Linked DNA regions of Homo sapiens: region 1 is linked to region 2. Evidence: fine-mapped QTL for protein levels in blood plasma. A gene starts in region 2. The other region holds a variant in brackets. All regions are shown on one strand. Distances are between the middles of the regions.

Evidence for each region. A credible set is the group of variants that fine-mapping cannot tell apart. PIP is the posterior inclusion probability: the model's chance that the variant is causal. Protein levels are from antibody-based Olink assays in UK Biobank. Linkage for the fine-mapping came from a reference panel and not from the study's own genotypes, which makes the PIPs less certain.
Region 1: its variant is the best candidate, but not a certain one, in a credible set for the plasma level of the CTSV protein (UK Biobank, PIP 0.53).

Annotation. Positions count from the first base shown.
Region 1 is chr9:97,121,574-97,130,921 of GRCh38, reverse strand. LOC105376166 (a long non-coding RNA gene) reads left to right here and starts at 243. Exons shown (of 3, transcript XR_930154.3): 1 at 243-279; 2 at 2,040-2,175; 3 at 2,445-6,623. It also overlaps the pseudogene FAM220CP. The variant G/A (reference allele first, on the strand shown) is at 7,120.
Region 2 is chr9:97,036,502-97,045,823 of GRCh38, reverse strand. CTSV (cathepsin V) reads left to right here and starts at 6,682. Exons shown (of 8, transcript NM_001333.4): 1 at 6,682-6,753; 2 at 7,771-7,906; 3 at 8,209-8,331; 4 at 8,426-8,572; 5 at 9,077-9,301. The coding sequence starts at 7,781. RefSeq lists a silencer at 6,338-6,647.

The DNA.
Region 1 (9,348 bases), 85 kb before region 2:
CCAAAGTGCTAAGATTACAGCCTCTTCCCGGCCGCCACCCCATCTAGGAAGTGAGGAGCGTCTCTGCCTGGCCACTCATTGTCTGGGATGTGAGGAGCGCCTCTGCCCGGCCACCCCGTCTGGGAAGTGAGGAGTGCCTCTGCCCGGCCGCCACCCCATCTAGGAAGTGAGGAGCATCTCTGCCTGGCTGCCCATCATCTGGGATGTGAGGAGCGCCTCTGTCTGGCCGCCCCGTCTGGGAAGTGAGGAGCACCTCTGCCCGGCCGCCCTGTCCAGGAGGTGAGGAGTGCCTCTGCCCGGCCGCCACGTCTGGGAGGTGGTGGGCACCTCTGCCGGGCCGCCCCGTCTGGGAGGTGGGGGGGGCGCCTCTGCCCGGCCGCCCCTCCTGGGAGGTGGGGGGCGCCTCTGCCCGACCACCCGGTCTGGGAGGTGAGGGGCACCTCTGCCTGGAGGAGCGCCTCTGCCCGGCCGCCCCGTCTGGGAGGTGAGGAGCGCCTCTGCCCGGCCACCCCGTCTGGGATGTGGGGGGCGCCTCTGCCCGGCCGCCCCGTCTGGGAGGTGAGGGGCGCCTCTGCCCGGAGGAGCACCTCTGCCCGGCTGCCCCGTCTGGGAAGTGAGGAGTGCCTCTGCCCGGCCGCCCCATCTGGGAGGTGTACCCAACAGCTCCGAAGAGACAGCGACCATCGAGAATGGGCCATGATGACGATGGCGGTTTTGTAGAAAAAAAAGGGGGAAATGTGGAGAAAAGAAAGAGAGAACAGATTGTTACTGTGTCTGTGTAGAAAGAAGTAGACATAGGAGACTCCAGTTTGTTCTGTACTAAGAAAAACTCTTCTGCCTTGGGATGCTGTTAATCTATAACCTTACCCCCAACCTCCTGCTCTCTGAAACATGTGCTGTGTCAACTCAGGGTTAAATGTATTAAGGGCGGTGCAAGATGTGCTTTGTTAAACAGATGCTTGAAGGCAGCATGCTCGTTAAGAGTCATCACCACTCCCTAATCTCAAGTACCCAGGGACACAAACACTGCAGAAGGCCGCAGGGACCTCTGCCTAGGAAAACCAGAGTCCTTTGTTCACGTGTTTATCTGCTGACCTTCTCTCCACTATTATCCTATGACCCTGCCACATCCCCCTCTCCGAGAAACACCCAAGAATGATCAATAAATACTATAAAAAAAAAAAAAAAAAAAAAGAATATATTTTCTAAAAGTTGCTACAATTCAATAATAAAAAGACTAATATCCAAATTTTAAAATGTATAAAAGCTTTGAACTGACAATTTACAAAATAAGATATATGGCAGATCAGCACATTAGAAGATGCCCAGCATCATTAATCATCAAGGAAGTGCAGATCAAAATCGCCCCCTGACCTACCAGAATTGCTAAAATGAAACAGGCTAATCACTACTAATGCAACAGCAACTCTCATACACTACCGTATGGTGTAAAGTGATACAACCATTTTGGAAAACTGTTTGCAAGTTTCTTAAAACATTTATACATACCTCTTCCACTTAACCACAGCATCTACAGAAATGAAAACACATGTCCACAAAAAGCCTTGCACAAAAGTGTTTACAGCAGCCCCAAACTAGAAGCAACCCAAATGTCCATCTACTGGGAAGTGCATAACCAAACTGTAGTACATGCATGCAACTGTCTTCTGCTTCCAGGCTAAGTTCTTTGCTTTTAAGGGCTTCTGGGATTAGATTGGACCCACCCAGATAATTCCAGATAATCTTACTTTCAGTCCCACACCACCTCAGCCCTCCTGCTCTTCAGAGCTCAGTGCACAGGGCTCATTTCCTCTCGGATGACCTTCTCCGCTAAGTCCATTTATACAGGGTTCCCTTCTTGTGCAGAACTAGGCCAGCTTCCCACATGTTCCAGGGCAAACTCACTTTGAGCAGGCTGTGTGTGTGTGTGTGTGTTCCCGGCTTTCTGCTATAAATTGAAGATTGTGGAGGGCAGGGACTATGTCTTTTTCTTCTTTTTGCCCTCCACTTAGCCCCTTGACTTTTTGCCCTCCACTTAGTCCCTCACACAGTGCAGCTTAGTGGAGAAGCACATGGCCTGTAGAATCAGATGGAACCATGTGAGGTTTGGGACCACAAGTGGATACACAAAACAGGAATCCTCTCCAATAAGGATACCCTTGAGCCAACCACTGGGTAAGTGAGGAAGGCATAGCCGCAGGGGAATCTGGGAAAGGCTCTGCAAGTACACAGGCCCTGGGGCCCGCACGTGCTGAGTGTGAGAAAGAGCAAGAGGCCAGGGTGGCTGATGAGAGTGAGGGAGGGGCCCATGTTAGGAGGCAGTGGGGACAGATGGTGTTGACCCTTTAGCTCAGGGAAGGGCTTGGGTCCATGTTATGAGTGAACCAGGATGCCATTGGCGGGTTTGAGTGGAGGAGTCACATGATCTGACTTTTGTTTAACAGGAGCATCTCCTGAAGCGCTGAGGATAGACTGAACAGCCAAAGCATGGAAGTTAGGGCAGAGGTGACTGTATGTGCAGCAGCTTCCCCTCGTCACCTGAATCTTCAGTATTGTTTGTGCAGGAAATGGAGGATCAAGAATCAAGATTCTTTCCCTTCATTTACCAATTATTATAGCAATCAGTTGGTTCCCTAGCATCCTCCAAAGGAAACAAATGGGGCTCTTTTTTTTTTTTAGAGACAGGGTCTGGATCTGTTGCCCAGGCTGGAGTGCAGTGGCGCAATTATTGCTCACTGCAGCCTTGAAGTTTTGGGCTCAAATTATCCTCCCACCTCAGCCAAGTAGCTGGTATTACAGGCATGTGCCACCATGCCCAGCTGACTTTTTTATTTTTTGTAGAGTCAAAGTCTCACCATGTTGCCCAGTCTGGTCTCAAACTCCTGGCCTCAAGCAATCCTCCAGCCTTGGCCTCCCAAAGTGCTGGGATTACAGGTGTGAGCCACCACATCCAGCCTAATGAGCTTTCTTAATATCATTATAAAGTCTTGAGTTTTTCAAATATTTGATGTGTTTCAAAACATTGCAGTTATTATCATTTTTACAGCTCAAATTATCCCATATCTGGCCAGTGAGAGCCTCTTCACGTTGGTGTCTGGACCCTTTAGACATGTGCCCAGTAGTCCTTGATGGCTTCTTGGCATCTGTTTATAATAAGATGCTGCAGGCTCATCTGGTACATTTCCTGCCCCAGATAGAGAACCAACCATTTCTCTAAGGATCTCTAGTTCCTTTTAGATGGAGATAACATTTAGAGTCCACAATGTAGACAACAGGAATGCTTGTTGCTACTAGATTTTTGTCTCCTAGAATATTCAGTGGATAGAGGTAGAACATATGTATTGTTAATTAAAATTTTAATTTTAAGATAATTGCAGATTCACAAACAATTTTAAGAATATTATTTACACAGATCTGCATTCCAGTTACTCAGTTTCTCCCAACAATAATATCTTGCAAAGCTATATTGCAATATCACAACCAGGATATTAGCATTGATGCAGTCAAAATGCATTGCCTTCACTGTAAAAGCCCCCTCAAGTTTTCCTTTTCTAGCTACACCCACTTCCCTCCTGCCCCCAGGCCCTCCTTCATCTCTGACAACCACTGAATCTGTTCTCCATTTCTATAGTTTTGTCATGTCAAGAATATTATATCAACAGAATTATGCATTGTGTATCCTTTTGGCATTGGCTTTTTTCACTCTGTAATTCTCTGAAGATTCATCCAGGATGTTGTGCATATCAATAGTGTATTCCTTTTTATTGCTGAATAGTATTCTATGCTATGGATGTACCACAGACTGTTTAATTGTTCACGAACTAAAGGACATGTAGGTTGTTTCCAGTTGGGGCCACTACAAATAAACTTGCTCTAAACATTTATGTGCAGGTTTTTGTGTGAACACAAGTCTTCATTTCTCTGGGACAAATGCCCAAGGATGCAGTTGCTGAGTTGTATGGCACTGCCAGTTTCATTTTTTTTTAATTGCCTAACTTTTTTCCAGAGTGGCTGTACCATTTTACATTCCCATTAATAGTAAATAAGGGAAAGAGTTTCCCTTCATCCTCACTAGCATTTGGAGTTGTCACTATTTTTTATTTAACCATTGTCATATGTGTATAGTAATAGCTCATCATAATTTTAATTTTTATTTTCATAATAGCAAATGATGTTAAATGTCCTTCCTTGTGCTTATTTGACATCTGTCTGTGCTTTTTGGTGAAATGCGTGTTCATATCATTTGCCCATTTTCTGTTTGTTTGTTTTGCTATTGAGTTTTAAGAGTTCTTTATGTAATTTAGATACTAATCCTTTGTCTGCTATATGCTTTCAAAACATTTTGTCCTAGTTGGTAGTTTGTTTTTTCATACTCTTAGCAAGGTCATTCACAGAACAAAATTTTTTTCTTTAATTTTGATAGCGTCCGGTTTATCTATTTTTGGTTTTATTGATGATGCTTTTGTTGTAAAGTTTAAAATATTCTTTGCCTGGCCCTAGGTCCTGAAGGGTTTTAATGTATTTTTCTAAAAGATTTGTAGTTTTACATTTAAGTCCGTGGTCTATTTTGAATTAATTCATGTATGGAGTGTTAGGTTCATGTCACCATTCAACTTTGCTTATGGATATGCAAATGCTCCAGCAATATTTGTTGAAAAAACTTCCTTTCCCCACACTGAATTACTTTTATGCTTTTGTCAATAACCTGTCAGTTATATTTATGTGGGTCTGAGTTCTCTGTTCTGTTTAATTTGTCTGTGTATCTTTCACTCTACCAATATCACGTGCTGTTGATTACAATAGCTACACAATAAGTCTTGTAATGGGATAGATTGATTCTTCCAACTTGGTAATTCTTTTTCAAAAATGTTTTAGCTATTTTAGTTCCTTTGCATCTCCAAGACAATTTTAAAATAATCTTGTATTCATCTACAAGAAATATTGCTGAAATTTTTGTAGGAATTGTATATATGAGTTTGGGGAGAATTAACATCTTTGCTATTTTGAGTCTCCAAATTGAAGAACATGATGTGTCTCATCATTTGTTTAGATCTTTGATTTCTTTCATCAGAATTTCTAATGTTTAGCATTCAAGTCTTATGAATGTTTTGTTAGAATTTGAAATGAGTATTTCCTTTTCTGAGCAATTATAAATGGTACTTATTGTATTTTTAATTTTTATATCCAAGCGTTCATCACTCAAAGTACACTTGATTTTTTTGTATATTTATGTCGTATCCTGTAGCCTTGCTGAATTCACTTACTAGTTCTAGGAGTTGTTGATTTTGGTGTTTTAAAATAGATTTCTTTGGATTTTCCACATAGCCATCATGTTATCTGCAAAAGTGAACAGTTTTATTTCTTCCTTTCCAATCAATATGCCTTTTTTTAAATGCTTTACTGAACTGGCTAAAACTTCCTGTGCTGTATTGAATTAGAGTAGTAAGAGCATATATCTTTGCCTTATTCCCTTTCTTAGGAGAAAAGCATTCTTTCTTTGACCATTAAGTATAATGTTAAGTGTTGGAGGTTTTGTAAAAGCTCTTTATCAAATTGAGGAAGTTCCTCTCTATTGTTATTTTTCTCAGAGTTTTTATTTTTATTTTATTTTTTTCAGACAGAGTCTCACTCTGTCACCCAGGCTGGAGTGCAGTGGCTCAATCTCAGCTCAGTGCAACCTCCACCTCCCAAGTGCAAGTGATTCTCATGCCTCAGCCTCCCAAGTAGCTAGCATGCATCACCACACCTGGCTAATTTTTTTGTATTTTTAGTAGAGACAGGGTATCGCCATGTTGGCCAGGCAGGTCTCAAACTCCTGGCCTGATGTGATCTACCCGCCTCACCTCCCAAAGTGCTGGGATTACAGGTGTGAGCCACCACACCTGGGATTTCTCAGAGTTTTTATCATGCATTTTGTCAAATGATTTTTCTGCATCAATTGATACGATTATGTGATTCTCTTCTTCATCATGTTAATATGGTAGGTTACATTGATTTTCACATATGGAACAAGCCTTGCTTTCCAGGAATAAACTGCACTTGCTCATAGCATATAGTTCTTTTTACATATTGCTTAATTCTGTGTCTATATTTATGAGGGATATTGGTCTGTAGTTCCTGTTTTGTTTTGTTTTTTTTAACTGTCTTTGTTTTTGGTATCAAGGTAATACTAGCTTTTAAAAATGAGTTGAGAGAAGGAGAAGGTGGGATTTGGGGGGAAAAGGTTGCAGACTTTTTGACTCAGGTCATTGTGGGCTTAGTCTCTATTGAGTGGCTGGGTTACTGCAGGAAGCCACTCTCCATTCTTAGGTGCATTCTTGTCTATTAAAGGAGAAAGTTAAACGCCTCTGGAAAACCTCAGGTTTATTTTAGTGCTTAAAGTCTGTGGCTCTAAATTCAGATCCAGAACTCATGTGGCCTGGCCAGGGAGGGTCACGGAGTGCTTTCCTCACACCTTTGTCTCTAGGCTCTGTAGACCTAGAGGTGTGGGACGTAAGAGCAGGCCCTTACCCATGGAATTTACATACAAATGGTGGAATAAGACAGGAAGTAAATAAATGTGATTATTCTGATAATGGTAAAAATAATAAATGAGATAAATAAATAAAATCACTTGAGAAGTATTCCGCTGTCTTTCTTTTCTCTGGAAGAGGATATACAGAATTGGTATCTATTATTCTTTAAACTTTGGGCAGAATTTTCCAGTGAAACCATCTGAGCCTGGAGATCTTATGTGGGGCTATTTGCATTATTTGTTTTATATTGATAAGTTGTGGTAGTTTATGCTTTTCAAGAAAGTGGTCTATTTCATTTAAGTTGCCAAATGTATGTGTTTAGAGTTGTTTGTAGTATTCATTTATTATCCTTTCAACATCTACAAGGTCTTTAGTGATACCTTCTGTGTCATGCCTAATATTTCTAATCTATAATTCTCTCCTTTTTGCTTTGTCACTCTTGGTAGATGTTTGTGAATTTTATAGATCTTTTTAAAGAACCAGCTCTTTGTTTCATTGGTTTTCTTTATTGTTTTTCTGTTTTAAATTTCATTGATTTCTGCTATTATAGTCATTATTTCCTTCCTTCTTATTTTGAGTGGTTTTTTTTTCTCTTATTTTCTAC[G/A]TACTTCAAGTGGGAGCTTAAATTATTGGCTTGATAATTTTCTTATCATCTAATTTATGCATTTAGTTCTATGAATTTCCCTCTCACCCTGCTTTATACATACCCACAAATGTTGATGTGTTGCATTTTCATTGTCATTCACTGTATTTTTTATTAAGACATATTTATTAATCCAAAGAACAAATTTTATTTTTCATTTTCCCCAAACACTAAAATAGCACATGGCATAGTAATTAAGCACACAACATAAACTGATATATGCAATCGCTAATCCCGAAAATGGTTAAGTCTCACTTTGGGAGTCTTTAAAACCTTATGCCCTTAAATGACCTTTATTAAAGTTATCAACAGACAACAAAAGGAGTCACCTGGAAAAATTTTAGGGTACAAGATACTGCAATTCCTAGAATCTGGGAAACTTTTTATCTGGGAAATAACTTGATTTGCTTCTCTGTAACTGAGCTACTTTTTTCTCGAGCTCATTTTTTTTTTTGAGACAGTCTCGCTCTGTCGCCCAGGCTGGAGTACGGTGGCGCCATCTCGGCTCACGGCAAGCTCCACCTTATGGGTTCACGCCATTCTCCTGCCTCAGCCTCCCGAGTAGCTGGGACTGCAGGCGCCCCCACCACGCCCGGCTAATTTTTTGTATTTTTTTTTAGTAGAGACGGGGTTTCACCGTGTTAGCCAGGATGGTGTCGATCTCCTGACCTTGTGATCTGCCTGCCTCAGCCTCCCAAAGTGCTGGGATTACAGGTGTGAGCCACCGCGCCCGGCCTCTCGAGCTCATTTTTAAGGTAACGCTGCTAGGGTTCTGAGTTTGAGAAGGGATCTTCTAAAGGTAAGCTTAATATTGCAACTTTCACCACAGGGCCTCTGTCTAAATTGCATTTCAAGTGGAAGGAAAGGGGTGTAAGAAGTGAAATAGAATTTTGCTGCAGACCAAAATCATTCTACAAAATGTAGAAATGATAATAGCTTACCACAAATTCAGCAAGATTTAACGCCAAGTACAGCGGTGTAGACTTTACAAGTATCCACTTCCGTTGGGTGATCAGACAAGCTGAAGGGACACACAGGATTTGGGACAGTAGCCCTTTAGACAATGCTGGGTGTTGAAGACAGAACTTCATCGTAAATCCGTATGTTCTAATCTGATATTTATACAGGCTATGATCGTCTCCTGAAATGTTTCCCAATTCTTTATATGTCTTTTAAAGCACAATTTAACATATGCTAAAAAATTTCCTTCCGCATCCACCAGTTTTGAATTTAAACTCAACTAAGTCTGCCAGGTCGTACAAACCACACCTTAATCATTCTAAGACAACTCTTAAAATTAATCTACTTGTATTGTTCTGCTTGTACCTTAACTATGGCATAATGAATTTGCTAATTCAAAATGTTGCAGAGCCAGTAACCCCAGTGTTATCTGCAGACCATCTGAGGTACTTTTAAGCATTTTTTTGAATTCTATTGTTTGCTTTGAAAACATGGGGTTTAAACGGTCAAGGAAAATGCGTTTTGTCTCGTCATTCAGGAGCTCTTCGGGACACGCCTGCAGTGTTGCAGACAGGATGGAATGCAGGCAAGAGGGTTCCAACTCAGAGCGCAGACCCTTGGGAAAAGCACTTGGTGGGTCATCCTGAAAACTTCCCATTTCCGGCAGTTTTTGATGGCATGGCAGTCGTGACACCTGAGGCTCTCCTTTGGGGCACTGTCCTCTGTGGCCGTGGGTGGCCCTGGGCCCTCCTCCCAGCCAGTCCCGCCCCAGAGCTTCAACACCACTGCAGGACACCCGAGCAAAATACTCTGTTGGAGCAGGGAACAAACCCACGGCTGCGCTCGGAGTGGCTGCTGAGGCTGGATTTCTTCTTACTGATTCTTTCACATATGGAAGAACTGGGCCGCCACTGGGAAGCGAGAGGCCAGCCCTGCTCGGATCCTTTCTCATTTCCAGTGATAATGCCTCACTCTGAATTTCCATCAGCCGCAGGCTTATTCATCCAGGAGGGTGCATCTGCAGGCCAAGGGCCCTCCATCGGCATTCTTTGCTTAAGGCTGTATGACAGTTTGTCCGAGTCACCTCCTCCGGCCCACTGCACTTGTGCCAGGCAGGTGCCGAGGGGCCCTCTTCTGTCCCTCATGCTTCGTGTTCTTGGATGCCGTGGGCCTGAGGTCACGCCTTCGTCAGTCCGGGAGGGCCTTCAATGGATCTCAATATGAACCTAT
Region 2 (9,322 bases):
TTAGCAGAGACAGGGTTTTGCCATGTTGGCCAGGCTGGTCTGGAGCTCCTGACCTCAGTGATCCGCCCACCTCGGGCTCCCAAAGTGCTGGGATTACAGGCATGAGTCACTGCGCCCAGCCCACCTTGGCAAGTTTTTAGAAAGCAAATTCTGGAACCCCGTCCCAGACCTACTGAATCAGAAACTGGGGGATATGTTCAGCAACCTGAGCTTTCAGGAGCCTCTGGGTGATTCTGATAAAGCTGGTGTTTGAGAACGAGCATCATAGGGTTGTTGGGAAGATGACCTCAGGAGCACGTGTGAAATGCTCAGAACAGTGCTCACACCTAAGAATTCTTTAGCTATTGGAAACCCAGGAAGTCACAGATAGAGACGCTCTTCCTCTGGAGCAACCCCAGGACAGGTGCATCTGCAAGCTGAGCCTCTCACAGCACAGAGCCTTCTCTGTCTTCACCACTCACTAAAGTGACACGGGGTGTCAAGGGGAAAAAATGCAAGTTCCTACATTAGTAAGGAAAGACTTTATTAATACAAGATATTGCAACAAGGAGATGCTCAAAGCCGAAACCAGAAGTGTCTCAGGAAAAGGGTGGGTAAGCAATGCTTTTTTATGCAGAGACCATGGGACAGCTGGCTGTGAAAAGAATAAGGAGGGGTTGTAAAAGCTGCTGTGTGGGGATCTTGAAACTTTTTTGTTTTTTGAGACAGGGTCTCCCTCTGTTGCCCAGGCTGGAGTGCAGTGGTACAGTCATAGCTCACTGCACCCTCAACCTCCTGGGCTCAAGCCATCCTCCCACTTCAGCCTCCTGAGTTGGTGGGACTATACGCACGCACCGCCAAGCTTGGGCTATTTTTATTTATTTTTTGTAGAGACAAGTTCTCCCTATGTTGCCCAGGCTGATCTCGAACTCCTGAGCTCAAGCAATCCTCCCGCCTCCGCCTTCCAAAGCGCTGGGATTAGAGACATGAGCCAATCACTAGGCCTGGCCAGGGTCTTGAAACTTAAAAGGCCGTGTCAAGCATTGCAAGGGAAACACAAGGCAGAAAATGTTGCCAGTACTCAGGTACATGAGGCAGGGATCTGAGGCTGAGATGGAGCAAAAAAGTCACAGTGTGGGAAGTTCCCAGGGAGTGTAGGGTCCAACTCTCTTAGTCAAGCCAGCCTTAAGTTATTTTATTTTATTTTATTTTATTTTTATTTTTTAATTTAATTTTATTTTATTTTTTGAGACAGAGTCTCACTCTGTTACCCAGGCTGGAGTGCAGTGGCATGATCTCGGCTCACTGCAACCTCCGCCTCCAGGGTTCAAGCAATCCTCCTACCTCAGCCTCCCAAGTAGCTGGGATTACAGGCGCCCGCCACTAAGCCCAGCTAATTTTTGTGTTTTGAGTAGAGATGGGTTTTCACCATGTTGGCCAGGCTGGTCTCAAACTCCTGACCTCAAGTGATCTGCCTGCGTCAGCCTCCCAAAGTGTTGGGATTACAGGCATGAGCCATCGCGCCTGGCCAGCCTCAAGTTATAATAAACACAAAGTTTTTATCAGCATTGTCAAGAAACTGATTTTAATTTTGCCACGTGTACCAGGATGTTTATAGCCCCCACTGACAACAGGTCTTAATTCCTGGCCCCTGAAGCTGTTATCTTAAACAGCAAAGACTTTGTAAATGTGATTCCATGAATAGTTCTGAAATGGAACGGTTATCCTGGGTTACCTGAATAAGCCCTAAATGCAATCACAGGGTCTTTATAAGAGGGAGGGAGATTAGACACAGACAGAAGAGATAGCAATGTAGTCACAGAGATTAGAGTGATGTGGCCACAAGTCAAGGAATGCGAGCAACCACCAGTGCTGGGACAGGCAAGGCACAGATTCTCCCCTAGAACCTCAGGAGGGAGGAAGGGAGGGAGCCCTATCACACCTGGTCTTTAGCCCAATGATGCCTGTTTAGGACTTCTGGCCTCCATAACTGTGAGGGAATAAAGGACTCCTGTTTCAAGCCACCAAGTTTGTGGGGATTTGTTATAGCAGACACAGGAAACGAATACACCTTGTTTCTTGAAAGGACTTTTTGAGGTTTGAAGAATTTTTCAGATTTGGCTGAGAGTTTGTGGATTACTGTTTTAGAGGAGGGGAGAAATTCCACCATTTCTCTTGTGAATTGGTTTCCTTGTTACTTGCTATACAAAGATGCTTCACCATAGTTCCATTTAAATATATCTGTCCTGTTCAATTTGCTATAGAACTGAAATTACTGTAGTGAACCACATATTTAAATATGGAAAGGCTGAACCTCAGAAAGCTGTTAGGAAAGCTAAGAATGTGGAAGTGAATGCTCATGCTACACCAGAAGAGGAGAACTGGTACCGAGTAAGAGCTGAATTCTCATTGATTGATTTACGTGCTTGATGAATTGGCTGATAGTTTAACTCTACAGGAAAAGCACAGTTACAGTAACCAAGAAAAGTAGTTATTTCATAAGTGGTTTTATATGAACCTCAAATCATAAACAGGCTGTTTGCTATACGATTATCAATGGTGACAAACCATTTTGCAAGTGGACAGTTTGCTGGATAATGCTTCTTAAGAGTAATTCTTGGCTCAGTGAATTTAAACAAATCGGAGGGGGTTATTATACTGGGGAGAGGTGTTAAGTGATGTCAGGGTCTTGAATGCCACCACACTAAGTTTGCCAGTTCCCCTATGGTTTAAAATTTCCGGAGACTGGGTAAAGAATCACATCCTCTTTTATTTATTTATTTATTTTTGAGACAGAGTCTCACTCTGTTGCCCAGGCTAGAGTGCAATGGCGCAATCTCGGCTCACTGCAACCTCCACCTCTCCGCGATTCTCCTGCCTCAGCCTCCCAAGTAGCTGGGACTACAGGCATGCACCACCACACCTGCCTAACTTTTTTTGTATTTTTAGTAGAGACAGGGTTTCACTATGTTGGCCAGGCTTGTTTCAAACTCCTGACCTCAAGTAATCCACCCACTTCAGCCTCCCAAAGTGCTAGGATTACAGACGTGAGCCACCATGGCTGGCCTATATCCTCTTTTAATAGTGAGTAAAAGAAAGCTACACAGATGCACGTGAGAATATACTTTCACAGGCACTGCGTTTTAAATAGGAATCAGGAAGTTCTGCCAACTCCATTTTATTAAAGGCATAACCAAGGCTTGGTTGCTTCACTAACATGTGACTGTTCTAAAAATTATCACTCATCAAAATTATTTTGCAAAGAAATAGGAATAGAAGAGTAGGGAAAGAAACAAATATTTAAATACAACTGTCCTGGCTAGTAATACCACATTTCTGTAATGCATTTTTTTACAGATGTGTATAAATAGATATAAATAGGTGTCCTAAGTTGGAGCAATAACGTCTTCCACCCTCTTGCTTATTGGCTTTCTCCCATATTTCTTCTGCATTTACATATTTCTGGTATAATTTTAGATTTGGGGCACACTTGGTTTGAAAAGGGTCTATGTTTTCTCCACTACTTTTGTCTCACATTCCAAAAAACAAAGGGGATGCCATTCTTCAGGGCAGCACCTGCCACTCATCTGCTGTCAGGCTATTGCTTAAGGCACAGATCTTAATGGCCTGGCAGGTTTCTCCACCCTACAATCTTAGGGAGCTGTGGCCCAAGGGCAACTGTAAAACCCACGTGTTAGAATAACTTAGCTTTCTTGTGATAGACTGAGTAAACAAATAGACAATGGCCATAGTATATGGCAATAGAACTCTGACCCACAGAAGAAATGAAGCATAATATCTGCAGAGACCAACTCAGAACAGTCAGGACTTACTCAGTGGCTGACAGCTTCCTCATTTTTGCCTCTGCTTCCAACCCAGGACAAACCAGAAAAACCAAATATACTCCACAAACAAATCACATAAGACGCTCCATCTCTAGTTATCCCTCCTTCAGCTTCTCCATGACGACACTCTGCAAAGAGGACATAGCTGAAGTTGCCCCCTTTTTCCCCTAAAGCTTTTCTTCTCCCTCGTCTTTGAATTATCTCCTTTGTTATAGCAAGTTCTGAATATATGGCCTCTGTTTGTTCTTAGGTGGTGGTCTTCATTTATTTCCACATGTGAATGATGATTGTGTTCAACACAATGATTAATTTTTAAAAAAGAAAAAAAACAGCTATTTGCAGTACAAGATGCTTTTTTTTTTTTTTTGAGACGGCAAATTTGCAGTACAAGTACAAGATGCTTTTTTTTTTTTTTTTTTTTTTTTGGGACGGCATCTCGCTCTGTCACCCAGGTTGGAGTGCAGTGGCGCATGCTCTGCTCCGCTCACTACAACCTCAGTCTCCCAAGTAGTTGGGACTACAGGCATGCATCACCATGCCTGGCTAATTTTTGTTTGTTTGTTTTGTATTTTTGGTAGAGGTGTGATTTCGCCATGTTGCCCAGGCTGGTCTCAAACTCCCAGGCTCAGGAGATCCACCTACCTTGGCCTGCAATACAATATACTTTTGTATTTTTTATATAACCACCTGACAGCTTTGGCCCCTAGTTGTATTTGAGAGGGAAAAGCTGCTATTTATTTAAAGGAAGGACATATAATTATTAATAAATTGATTTTTAAAAAGATGTATTTGCCTGATGGTGCTTCTGAAAAGTTGTCAGTTTAATTGTTTTTAATTTGTTAAAAGAAAATCCATAGCCAAATTAAATTTAAGAGAATTTAATTGAGCAAAAAACAATTCGTGAATCTGGCAGCCTCCAGTGCCAGAGTAGGCTCAGAGAGACTCCAGTGCAGCCACATGGGGGAAGATTTATAGACAGAAAAGGGCAAGTGAGGCACAGAAACTGCAGGATTGGATACAGCTCCATGTTTGCCTTATTTGAACATGGTTTGAACAACTGAACCTCTTTGATTTACAGAAATTCGGGGATAGGCACAAGAGCAGGCTACAGTCTGTTTACACCTCCATTTAGATTACAATTCGCTATGTACAGAGAAACCTTTAGGCCAAACTTAAATCACATGGGGAGGCAGCTTTAGGCTAAACTTGATTTCACAAATTTTCAAATTAACAAGTAAAAACTGTGGATATTATTCAATTTAATCTTTAAGAGTTTATTAATCAATATGCATTATAACTTCATTTTTGTAAAAACAAAAAAAGATATGCCTAGAAAAGGGTTATGGAGAGGGCACAAGGGACGTTTATTTTCTAAAACATATTTTTTATAATGGATTTTTTTATATAACTTTAAAAAGAATTAGAAACGTTTCTGAATTATTAATGATTTCCTTAAATCTTTAGCTACATATATTTCTCCATAAAGAGCAGTTCCTCAAACTGCATCACCTCAACCCTGATATTATATATTTTTATTTTTATTTTTATTTTTTGAGACAGAGTTTCGCTCTGTCACCAGTCTGGAGTGCAGTGGCACGATCTCAGCTCACTGCAACCTCCGCCTCTCGGGTTCAAGCAATTCTCCTGCCTCAGCCTCCTGAGTAGCTGGGACTACAGGCGCCCGCCACCACGCCCAGCTAATTTTTGCATTTTTAGTAGAGACAGGGTTTCACCATGTTGGCCAGGATGGTCTCGATATCATGACCTCGTGATCCGCCCGCCTCGGCCTCCCAAAGTGCTGGGATTACAGGTGTAAGCCACCGCGCCCGGCCGGTATTAAACATTTTTAAAGTAAATTTATTAAATCTCAAAAGAAGCACACTTTGAATACTGAGGAAGAGACGTTGTAACCCATAAGCAGAGAGTAGGTAAGTAAAAGCAATTTCCACCACTCTCAGACTGGGCGTAGTGGCTCACGCCTGTAATCCCACCACTTTTGGGAGGCTGAGAGGGGAGGATCGCTTGAGGCCAGGAATTCAAGAGCAGCCTAAGGAAACTTAGCCAAACTCCATTTCTACAAAAGAAAAATTTTTAAAGCAATTTATTTCACCATTCTCAACGCTTTTCTCTTTTTTATTAACCAAATATTTCTGTAACTCTTTTTTTTTTTTTTTTTTTTTTTTTTGGTATTGAAAGACATGGGAGAAGGAAGAATTCCTGAATGCAACAGACTGGGAAGGACGCACCACAAAACGCTCCGCGGTCTCTGGACACCCTATCAGCTAGTCCCGTCCCTCCTGGTGTCCGGTCTCGACCATCCATCCCGTGTTTTGGGAGTGCCTTTCCTTACCAGATTCTTCTAAAGCCCTGATGCACCCACCCTTAAGTGGAAGGTAATGCTTCTGCTGGGGGCTGTGCGTTCTTCCACTCCGTCCCACCTTTGCCGTGGACTAAACAGGAGCCACTGAACGAGAGTACCCTGGCTCCCGGCCCTGCAGATTTTCACCAAAAACTCTAGGACTAAGTTAAAGTAGGGACTGAAATACCACACAGAGCTCGCTGTAAACCACCCGCTCAGCGCAGTAAGTCGGGATAGTCAGTAGATCTGAGCCCTTGAGGGAGGCGCCTCCCCCTCCTCCGCGCAGCCCCCGGGCGCCCGGCCCAGCTTCCCGCAGCCAGGGTGTATTGAGGTAGGCGCGCCCAGACCTGAGACGGGTTGGGACTGGGCTGCGTCACGCGCGGGCTCTAAGCGCCCGGGGCCCCGCCCAGTGGCCGGCACAGCCAATCGCAGCGCGGGAAGGCGGTGGGGGCGGGGAAGGCCGCCTGGAAACTTAAATCCCGAGGCGGGCGAACCTGCACCAGACCGCGGACGTCTGTAATCTCAGAGGCTTGTTTGCTGAGGGTGCCTGCGCAGCTGCGACGGCTGCTGGTGAGCGCCCCCGACCAGACCGAGGGACAGGGCGAAGGGGGACTGGAGGAGGGAACCCCCCTTTAGGGACACTGAGAGGAGGCGGGCGCTTCTGGGAGTGAGAGCTTCTGCCCGGAGCTCTGCCAGCCTCGAGGTGGGGAACGGGGGAGGGCGGTTGGAGACCCCAGGGAGGCGCCGGCACCACTGGGAGGGCCCGGGCGGGGCAGGTCAGTCATCCTGTGGGCTGAAGCCGGACCGGACCGGGCGGCTTCATGCCCCCAGCCTGGCCGCGGAGCCCCCGCTCCCTGCACCGCCGCAAACATTCTCGGGGCGCGGCGGCGCGTGCAGAGGGCGAGAGCAGGCGGTGCGGCCCCGGTCCTGGCCCGCCCGGAGCTCCGGGAGCTGCCTGCCTCGGTCCGGGCCCTGGCCCTGGGGCCCCTGGCTTCCAGCGGCGCGGCCTTGTGACCCTGCCCCGGTTTAGGGGAGCGAGTAGCACAGACCCAAGTGTGGGACGGCGGGAATAGTGGGTGCTCTCCTTCCCAGTGTCTCCTGGAAAGGGATTCCCGAAAGGTTTTATTCCAAAAGGAGAGGTTGGAAGACATAGCTCATCTCCTGCTGTGTATCAGCCAAGAAGGTGTGAGGTGGTGTTCCTTGGGGATCCGCTTGCATCTACTTGGGATGGTACGTCTTCATTAGTGAGGTTTTGCCTGGATGACCTCAGTACAATTGGTGCAAAACCTGGACCAACTCTTTCCTAGTTTTCTAGTTGTTGCCTTAAGCTTCTCACCCGTCAGGTATCTTTCACACCCTTCTCATACCCTAAATTATCGCATATGCTGTTTCAACGCCTCCAACTCTGCAGGCTGCTTTTAATTTTGGTGGGCCCATCAAATACCTCCACTTGGCCTGTTTCAGCCTCTTCCACAGTCCTTGGGGAAATGCTAGGGAGAATAATTGAAATATTTCTATTCCACGGGGGCTGTAAGATGGCTTTTTAGGATTGGTCTAATCAGATACTCATTTCTTTTCTCTTTCTAGGTTTTGAAACATGAATCTTTCGCTCGTCCTGGCTGCCTTTTGCTTGGGAATAGCCTCCGCTGTTCCAAAATTTGACCAAAATTTGGATACAAAGTGGTACCAGTGGAAGGCAACACACAGAAGATTATATGGCGCGGTTGGTAACATCTGAAACTGTCCAGAGGGACTCTGGAGAGAATGGTCCTCGCTGTTGGGAGTTGATAGCCAGAGAGTAGCTTCTAGACACCAGACCTTACCAGGCAATAACCTAACAGCACCCATTATAGGTGCAATATGGGCATATATCTCCATTGTGTCTTGGCTTGGAGAACAGCTCCCAGAGAAGTATCAACCCATCCCTGGCCATGGTTTCTCTTCCATTTCTGCCCGCAAATCGGCTTGGTGAACATGGGTTGGGTAAGTAGACATAAAGTCCACCAGCTATATGTTTGCCTCTAGAATGAAGAAGGATGGAGGAGAGCAGTGTGGGAAAAGAATATGAAAATGATTGAACTGCACAATGGGGAATACAGCCAAGGGAAACATGGCTTCACAATGGCCATGAATGCTTTTGGTGACATGGTGAGTGTGGCAAGGATTGCTGAACTCTGTGCTGCTTCTCAGTTCTTCACCAAAATAGTCTTGCTTTTAACATTTTATTTACTTCTCCTTGAAGACCAATGAAGAATTCAGGCAGATGATGGGTTGCTTTCGAAACCAGAAATTCAGGAAGGGGAAAGTGTTCCGTGAGCCTCTGTTTCTTGATCTTCCCAAATCTGTGGATTGGAGAAAGAAAGGCTACGTGACGCCAGTGAAGAATCAGGTGAGACAGCGTCAGATTCAGACCCTGTCTCCACAGGAAAGCCAAGAAGGAATTGGTGTCATTGCTGTGGTAGATGGTGGCACAACATATGGTGATGGGTTTTTTGTATTTTTGGTTTTTGGTGTTTTTTTTGTTTGCTTGTTTGAGACGGAGTTTAGCTCTTGTTGCCCAGGCTGGATTGCAATGGCGTGATCTCGTCTCACTGCAACCTCTGCCTCCTGGGTTCAAGAGATTCTCCTGCCTCCACCTCCCGAGTAGCTGGGATTGCAAGTGCTCACCACCATGCCCAGCTAATTTTTGTGTATTTTTAGTAGCGACAGGGTTTCACCATGTTGGCCAGGCGGATTTCAAACTCCTCTCCTCAAGTGATCTGCCCGCCTCGGCCTCCCAAAGTGTGGCGATGGGTTTTTTTTTTTTTTAAAGAATATTAAGGTAATTCAATTATGGGGTACTGTATTTGTATTGGTCTTGTAAATTTACAGCTTTTTTTTTCTCCCTTTTTAGAAACAGTGTGGTTCTTGTTGGGCTTTTAGTGCGACTGGTGCTCTTGAAGGACAGATGTTCCGGAAAACTGGGAAACTTGTCTCACTGAGCGAGCAGAATCTGGTGGACTGTTCGCGTCCTCAAGGCAATCAGGGCTGCAATGGTGGCTTCATGGCTAGGGCCTTCCAGTATGTCAAGGAGAACGGAGGCCTGGACTCTGAGGAATCCTATCCATATGTAGCAGTGGTAAATGGAGCTCCTTATCTT